2 separate regions of the Homo sapiens genome follow, and region 1 is linked to region 2. Evidence: fine-mapped expression QTL. A gene starts in region 2. The other region holds a variant in brackets. All regions are shown on one strand. Distances are between the middles of the regions. Region 1 overlaps RNF14 (ring finger protein 14). Region 2 holds the start of GNPDA1 (glucosamine-6-phosphate deaminase 1).

What was found. PIP is the estimated chance that this variant, and not a neighbour inherited with it, causes the effect. A credible set is the group of variants that fine-mapping cannot tell apart.
Region 1: its variant is the best candidate, but not a certain one, in a credible set for the expression of GNPDA1 in whole blood (INTERVAL, PIP 0.69).

Annotation. Positions count from the first base shown.
Region 1 is chr5:141,989,365-141,993,710 of GRCh38, forward strand. RNF14 (ring finger protein 14) reads left to right here. Exons shown (of 9, transcript NM_004290.5): 9 at 1-928. Among named protein-coding and RNA genes, the nearest start is that of GNPDA1, 21 kb to the right of the region's middle. The variant A/ATT (reference allele first, on the strand shown) is at 1,698.
Region 2 is chr5:142,011,204-142,015,597 of GRCh38, forward strand. GNPDA1 (glucosamine-6-phosphate deaminase 1) reads right to left here and starts at 1,824. Exons shown (of 7, transcript NM_005471.5): 1 at 1,792-1,824; 2 at 709-838. The coding sequence starts at 832. RefSeq lists silencers at 949-1,008, 1,680-1,949 and a cis regulatory region at 3,091-3,363.

The sequences.
Region 1 (4,346 bases), 22 kb before region 2:
TCATGGTCTTCCATTCAGGACATTTTGTGTAAAAATTGAGGTTAATTTGCTGGGCACAGTGGCTCACGCCTGTAATCCCAGCACTTTGGGAGGCCTAGGCGGGCGGATCACGAGGTCAGGAGTTCGAGACCATCATGGCTAACACGGTGAAACCCCGTCTCTACTAAAAATACAAAAAATTAGCTGGGCATGGTGGCAGGCGCCTGTAGTCCCAGCTACTCAGGAGGCTGAGGCAGGAGAATGGCATGAACCTGGGAGGTGGAGCTTGCAGTGAGCCGAGATAGCGCCACTGCACTCCAGCCTGAGCGACAGAGCGAGACTCCTTCTCAAAAAAAAAAAAAAAAAAAATTGAGGTTAAAGAATAAATTAAAGATAAGAAATGGAAATTAAAATGATTTGTTCTACAGTATATACCTGAGAAGAGTGATTTCTGTGATCAAAGAGTTCAATTCAGATTTATTCAGAAAGAGCTACTCAGAAGCTCTATAGTTCGTGAGCTACTTGATATTTTCTAGAGATCATTTTATGTTAAGCTGTTATACATTGTTGATGATGTCATAGAAGTAGGAAAGAAGCCTTTATAATACAGTTTTATGAAAGAAATGGGAGCCTTTTTTCCCATTTATGATATTAAAAACAACACAGGTATTTGGTGTTTAGTCTCAAAAATTTGTTTGGTCACCTTAGTGATTCTTAGGTACAAAGTCTTCATCACTCAATTTTAACAAAGAAAATAGGGCTTATAAAGTTATACTTTTGAAGCATGAGTTATGAGCTAATTTTAAGATGTATAGTTTTGGTAGAGTACTTTTGTCTCAGTAAAATGAAAGATTTGGGTAACTCCCCAAATGCCCTGTAAAACAAATGGGTTTGTGGAAGGTTGTGGTGTCAGCAAAATATATGATAGAATAAAGAGTTTTGTACCTACCTTAATTTCATGAAAGCCTTTTTTTATGAGTGGGTTGAGATTTGCCATAAATTAGTATGAATTTCATGGGCCTTTTTTCTTTTTGAGACAGGGTCTCACTGTCACCCAGGCTGGAGTGCAGTGGTGCGATCATAGCTCACGGCAGCCTTGAGATCTGGTCTCAAGCAATCCTCCCACCTCAGCCTCCTGAGTAGCTGCGACTGCAGGCACATAGCACCATGCCCAGCTAATTTTTTTTTTTTCTTTTTAGTAGAAATAAGGTCTCGCTATATTGCCCAGGTTGTGAACTCCTGAGCTCAAGTAATGCTCCTGCCTCAGCCTGCCAAAGTGTTGGGATTTACAGGCATGAGCCACAGTGCCTGGCCTCCTGGGTGTTTTTGGGGGAGTTTGAATAGTCAGTGTCTCTTCATTTTTATATAAAAGGTTTGGGTCTAGAGCTGATAAATGAAAATAAGCTATCAAATAACTTATTTATTTATTTATTTGAGATGGAATCTCCCTCTGTTGCCCAGACTGGAGTGCAGTGGCACAATCTCAGCTCACCGCAGCCTCCACCTCTCAGGTTCAAGTGATTCTCCTGCCTCAGCCTCCCAAGTAGCCAGGACTACAGGCATGCTCACCGTGCCCAGCTAATTTTTTTGTATTTTTAGTAGAGATGGGGTTTCACCATGTTGGCCAGGCTGGTCTCGAACTCCTGACCTAGTGATCCACCCGCCTCAGCCTCCGAAAGTGCTGGGGTTACAGGCATGAGCCACCACGCCTGGCCATA[A/ATT]TTTTTTTTTTTAAATCAAAATAGCTCTGTGACATTTTAAGCTTGTGATCGAACTAACTTTAGGGCCTGCCTTTGTCAGTTGAGATGCATCTTGTTTCATCCATTTTTCTTTTAGTTTAAATTTTTATTATTATAATTTTTATTTTTTTAGCTACCCTATTAACAGACCATCCATTTTTTAAAAAGAAACTTTTTATTTTAGAATATAGATTGACAGAAAAAGTGCCAAGATTGTACAGCGTTCCTATGTACCCCTCACTTGGTTTTCCTTATTAACATATTAGTGCAGCACATTTGTCATATTAATGAAGTAGTATTGATATTATTAAGTAGAGTTCATACTTTATTCAGATTTTCTTAGTTTTACCTAATGTCCTTCTTCTGTTCCAGGATCCCTTCTAGGACACCACGTTATTATATTTAGTTATCATGTCTCCTTAGACCCCTCTCAGCTGTCACAGTTGTCTCATCTGTTTTTATTGTTATATAAACATTAATTATACCTTGGTACATCTGGATTGGGCAGGAGCCAGAAAACTTTTTGAAGACAGATTACCTAATCCTAGCAGGCTCAGCAAATCAGTGATTTCTTTTTGACTGAGGTCTTTTGTAGCTTTAAATCAGTTACTTCTCAGGATGCTTCAGTGCTGTGTATGCAGTTTTAGGCTGTTCACCTGTTCTGGTAATTTTCCTGCTCGGCTTCTTGAAAAACATCATTAAACACTGGGCAAGTTGATCAAGTCAGGAAGTCAGCTGGACCCATTAGACTGTGCCCTGGTGTGAGAATTAGCCTGCCATCTTGGCTAAATCCCGAAGTTTGTTGAGTAGATGTATCCCTTCCTGTTGACCTGTGGAGGAGCTGGTGAACGTAAGAAAGGCTCAGTATCAGAAGCCATATTCCCAGACAGATTTGTGGTGTTAGTCAGCAGTCTTTTTTTTTTTTTTTTTTGAGACGGAGTCTTGCTCTGTCACCCAGGCTGGAGTGCAGTGGCTTGATCTCGGCTCACTGCAACCTTCGCCTCCCGGGTTCAAGTGATTCTCCTGCCTCAGCCTCCCAAGTAGCTGGGATTACAGGTGCCCACGACCACACCCAGCTAATTTTTTATTTTTTATTTTTTTTAATTTTTAGTAGAGACGGGGTTTCACCATGTTGGCCAGCCTGGTTTCGAACTCCTGACTTCAAGTGATCCACCCATCTCAGCCTCCCAAAGTGCTAGGATTACAGGTGTGAGCCACCGCACCCAGCCCAAAGTCATTTGCCCAAAGTCATTTTTTTAGTAGTAGACAGTTCTAATTTACATTAGTAATCTCTTCATATACTTTGTATTTATTTTTTCTGTCAAGAGCAATGAGAGTTAATTAGAGGAGATAATAATAAAGTTGTTCACGTGGCTGTCTGCTTTGAAAGGGAATTTCAGAATTTTGACTGGAGTTTGGATCTCCCTCCTACCTAGTATTAACTTTGCCATAAGCATCACCAGCAGGTGGCAGCAGTTCCCATGTTCTAAAAATATCGTCACTAGTTAAGACAGGTATAGAGTATGTTGTTTTGTTACAGAAGTAGATTTAATTTCTGGTATTTAAATTTTCCTCATTATATTTCATTATAGTCTGTTTTATACTTTAGTAGACAGAATGGTATCTAACAGTACTATCAAGGCAGGAACAGCAGTATTATCAGAAATTTTTAAATACTCAAAAGTGTATGTGAACCACAGTTGACATCTTATGCAATTGTTACATAGTAGAGTGTCACTCCTGATAGTGGCACTTAACCTTCAACCACCAAAGTAGGGAAATTAAGTTGTATATAAAGCCCCTAAGTAGGACCAAGGAATTGTAACCCCATGGTGCCCTCTGATGCTGGTAAGAGTAGCCAGCCTGCTCCCCAAACCTTAGCTTAACTAAAAAAATCAGGCCAGACTGAGTGTGGTCAGAAATCTGGTTATGGGAGCTTTAGGGGTATTCTTAGCCAATGTTTATGGTAATAATCAACTTTCATCACCCATCGTTTAGACTGTACAGTTTCTCAGGTTGTCTGAAGATTTACCACTCCAAGGACTCCCACATTTCTCTGAGCCAGAGGATGCTTTGGAGAAGATTGTGTACATTGGAAACTTAGGGAGATTTGATGCTGAAGTTGCTAAGTACAAAGTTAACACAGTCACTTCTTTTCCTTGCTTGGATCTCCTTTTTTCCCTTCATTATAAAAACAAACCAAAAAAGGAAAAGCAGCTAAACTCACACTAATACAACATAAATACATGTAAATTTTAAAAGCGATTGTCTTACCCTCAGTACCATTCTACTTTTTGCAACCTATAGTATTTCCTAGAATAACTCACTTATTTAACAAATACTGATGGAATACCCAGCAATGGGCCTTACTCTTTTTCAAGGTGGTGAGAATGTAGCAGTAAATAAAACAGACATAATCTCCCTGCCCATGTGGAACTTAAATTCTGGCGGAAGGAAAGAGACACTAAGTAAATTATCTGGTTCATCAGAAGATAAGTACCATGGGTCGTGCGCAGTGGCTCCCTCCTGTAATCCCAGTGCTTTGAGAGGCTGAGGTGAGTGGATCACTTGAAGCCAGGAGTTTGAGACCAGTCGGGGCAACATAGTAAGACTCCGTCTCTCTTAAAAAAC
Region 2 (4,394 bases):
TACAGAAAAAGTCTGGACTGCAAGGAAGACCAAAAAAAAAAAAAAAAAGGAAAAAGAACAAGTTTGAAGACCCCTCCAACACACACACACACACATAGACACGCTAATGGATGGGTCAGGTAGGGCCACTAGGGCAAACCCATCCATCTCTGAAAGAAATAATCAGGACATTTGTCTTGAGGAGCTGGGGTCAAAATATCTTTCTGAAAAAGCAACATTTTGATTTTTTCCAAAAGAAATTAGAACTGTTTTTTATTTAGGTCCTGTGTTTAATTAAGCCTTACAGAAAATTACCTAAGTGACTATCTTTTCAATTCTCCCAAGGATGGTACTTAGCTGGTACCCCTCTAGATGCAGAGAAGAGAAATTAATTCATTACATAAAATGAATGCCTTAGGGTATCAGGACTTAATTCTGTTAAGAAACCCTGGTGGACAGGGCTGACTTAGGATGTAGCCTAAAAATCAAATTCTTCCTGCCAACCAAGATCCCTTCTGCTCCAGGATTCTGCAGGGACAGGCAGCGACTAAACCAACCCATAAGGGAAGCTGGGTCCTTTGTATGTGGAAGGGGCAGGAAGGTGCTCTCTCAGCACCAGTACCCCAGAGCCCCCGTGAAGTCCCTTGGCTGAGTGAGCCGGTGTACCTGGCCCCTGTTGCCTACTCTCTCCACCCTTATCCACGGCACCCTCTCCATCCAAGAACGCACCAGTGGGGAGCCCCAGGGTGAAGTACTTCTCTGGCCCTGGGTTAAACTGGATGATGCGGTTCCTGATGTATTTAGCCGCCCACTCGCTCGCCTGAGAATAGTGCTCCAGGATGATGAGCTTCATCTTGTCCTGCAGTGGGGGAGAGGGGATGACAGAAAGGAATCAATGGTAAGGGGCAGAGAAAGAGATGGAGGTGGTGGGAGAAGCTTCTCTTACCCAGCAACAATCCCCTTCCCAAGCTGTCTGAGCCAGGAAAAAGGCCTTTCTATTCACAGAGGAGCTAAGAGGCTAGGCCAGTCGTCTCCACCACCCACAGACCACGAGGAGGCGCCACTGGGGGCAGATCTGGGTTCTAATCTCAGCTCCTTCACTTACCACCTGCAGGACCTCGGTCAAAGGACCTAAGTTCTCTCTGAGCCGTTTCCTCCTATGTAAAAATTGGGACAATAGTACCTACTTCACAGACTTCACGACGGGTAATATGAAATGAGAGAATGCATGTAAACAACTTAGTATTTTCTACGTTGGCTGTTACCATCCAGATAGATGCTCGGCTCAGCCCCGCCTCCCTCATCCCTGCCCCTACCGGAACGGGATACCCTACCCCCTCCCCGCCGTCTACCCCAAGACTCTTCCTCCAGAAGTAGAGAGGTCATGGGATCATGCTGGGCCACTAGAGCAGGTGGGGCAATGAGCTCTGCCTGGGGAGCTGTGTGCTCTCTCTGGACTAGCGGAGGGGTCTTCCTACTGGCCCACCTTGCTTTGCGAACCCCTCTGGGTCTTCAGTTTCCCCCAAAGCACAAAAGGGAAAAGGTAATCGCTCCAGAAGGAGGACATTTTGTTCCCCCAGCACTGCGGTTAGTGGGAGTGTGAAGGAAAGAGGCGAAGGTGGCCCGCGCGGTCGTCGGTGGGGTACAGCGTGTCCCCCACCCCCATTACCACCCCATCGCCCCTCCGATCCCTCCTGGAAAATGTGTGAGGGCGGCTCCCCGGGGTCCCGACCCCGAGTGCCGTAGGGCTGGGGCAGCGCTCCGCGCTCCGGCCCGCGAGGAAGGTCCCCGCCAGCCCTGCTACCCACTTACACGGACGCCTCCCGCGGCGGCTGCAGCGACTGCGCCGGCGGCCCGGCCCCGCGCGGGTCACGTGGCTGCGGGTCACGCGGCGCCGCGTGCGCCGCCCGCCGGGCTGACTCAGCTTGGCCGCAGCTACCCGGACCGACTCTCCCAGGTGGAGGAGTTCCGGCCACTCAGTCCCACCTCGGTCCCTGGCCCCGGCAGGCCCTGGAACAGACCTTAAAAAACACTTTCCCTTGGGAGGCGGGGATTCGAGTCTGGTTTGTGTGTGTGTGTGTGCAAGAGGAGGGAGACTTGAGGGGCGCCGGGTCGCCCCCAGGAATACAACCCCCTGGACCTTGGGGCTGGGGCCGGGGGGTTTTAGTGCAGGGGTTGAGCTGGGGGCAGGCAAAGCAGAATCGCTTCCTCAGTCTCCTAGGGTTGGGCCTGGCTCTGCCTTCAGTTTCTTTCTTTGTTTAGATGCCATTTATTTACCCAAGTATTAAAACTTGTGTTGTTTAAAGTACAATTGGGCTTTTTAATGTCCTTTTTTAAAGATCAAACTTTGCAGCATTATATAATAGAGAAAAAGGCAGGCCCCTGGTTTCCCCAACTCCCCACACCAAGATAACCATTGCTTAGTTTAAGAGTACATTCTGAATTGCTTTCTTTGAATATGCTTACACTGTTATTTTACATAAATGGGAACACATACACATGAGGCTTATATATATCAAGGCTCGGATATTTGACCTGCATTATTTCACTTAATCCTTATTAAGCTCCAGTGAGGTAGGTTTGCCGTTACTTTTTAACAGGTGGAGAAACTGACGCTTGGAGAGAAAAATTAACTTGGCCAGAGGCACAAGTGGTTTCCCTTGTGCCTTCAATTCAGGGGGATCTGTCCAAATCCAAAATCCATGCTTTTTACCGCTAGCGGGCACTGCCTCCCAGCTGGTATGACTGGATTTGGGACGCTTCCATATCAGAAAAAGAGATCCATCTTATTCTTTCCAGTCAACATTAGAGTGTTCCAGACTTCTAGGGACACTTGGGAACTTTCCATGCGGAGGCTGGAGGAAGGACTTGAGTGCTGGTCATCAGTAACATCTTCCATTACATAGGGTTTTGCCAGAGCTTTGTGCGCATTATTTCATAGAATCCCGCCCAATCGTCAGATATGATTACCGCCATTTTATTGATGTGGAAACTGGGGATCAAAGGCGTACAGAGACTTGTGATATATGACCTCATAGTCTGACATCCCGGACTTTAGTCAGTGCTAGGGAGCAGTGGTGAGACCTTCTGAATCAGCCTAGTTTTCCTCCAGCAGCAAAAGGCCAAAGGAATCCTGGCTTTATGCCCACGGGACAGGGCCTTCCTCAGTCAGCCGGGTGGCCACGTTCTGCAATTCTGCTGAATCTGCTCACTGTGGACAGCCCCAGGCGCTCACCCAGCCCTTGGGCCCAACTGCAGCTCCAGACCAGCTTGCTAGGGGTAGGCTTCATCTGGTGAGGCCCTGATGAGACCAGATGGTGGAGCTGATACCTTTACAGTGTGGGGGACTTGCTCTTTGCCTCAGTGTTATTTTGTTTTGTTTTGTTTTGTTTTCCAAATCCTGAGAGGCTGTGAATGGCTCGGTGTTGGTGTAGTTTTTGTTTATTTTTAAATTCAGTCAGAAATCTTTTTTTTTTTTTTTTTGAGATGGAGTCTCGCTCTGTTGCCCAGGCTGGAGTACAGTGGTGTGATCTCTGCTCACTGCAACCTCCGCCTCCCGGGTTCAAGCAGTTCTCCTGCCTCAGCCTCCCGGGTAGCTGGGATTACAGATGCCCACCACCATGCCCAGCTAATTTTTGTACTTTTAATAGAGATGGGGTTTCACCATGCTGGCCAGGCTAGTCGTGAACTCCTGACCTCAGGTGATCTGCCCGCCTTGGCCTCCTAAAGTGCTGGGATTACAGGCATGAGCCACCGCCCCCAGCCAGAAATGTTGTCTCAGCTTGAGGACTGCAGATGTTTCACAATGAAGCTCCAACTCCAATCTCCGATCACGTCTGATAACATGGGCCAGGTCTGCAGCATCTGCATCCAGACCTTTCCAGGAGGAGAGTGACTGACTTCTGGTGACTAAGCCCATTTCCCCTGAGTTACCCCTTCTGCAGGGAACCAGTGCAGGGTCTCTGCGAAGCCTGGAGGCTCTTGGATCAGCGTGGGGACTAATCGGAAAGACCTGCATTTCAATTCTGGTCTGGCTAATTTCTGGTTATTTAGTGAGTAATTCAAGCAAATGACTCAACTTCTCCAGGTCTCAGTTTTCTTACCTGAAACATAAGAATTGAGTGGAAATTAAGTAATACTGCCCTCGTGTGGCTGTTGTGACTATTAAATGAAATATTAGCATAGCATGGCATTCACAGCCAGCTGTTATTACTTACCCCTTATTTCCTCCTAACCCTCCTTACAGCCCACTCTCTAACCATACTGAAATGCTCTCTAGCCCTAACCTCCTGACTCCCTGTACTCCTCCTACTCCACATCTGTGTTTAAACTATTACCCACACCTATCCTCCCATCCTCTTGTCTTGGAACTAAAGTTGCCAAATTAAAAGAATTGTGAGTTTATCCATGCAATG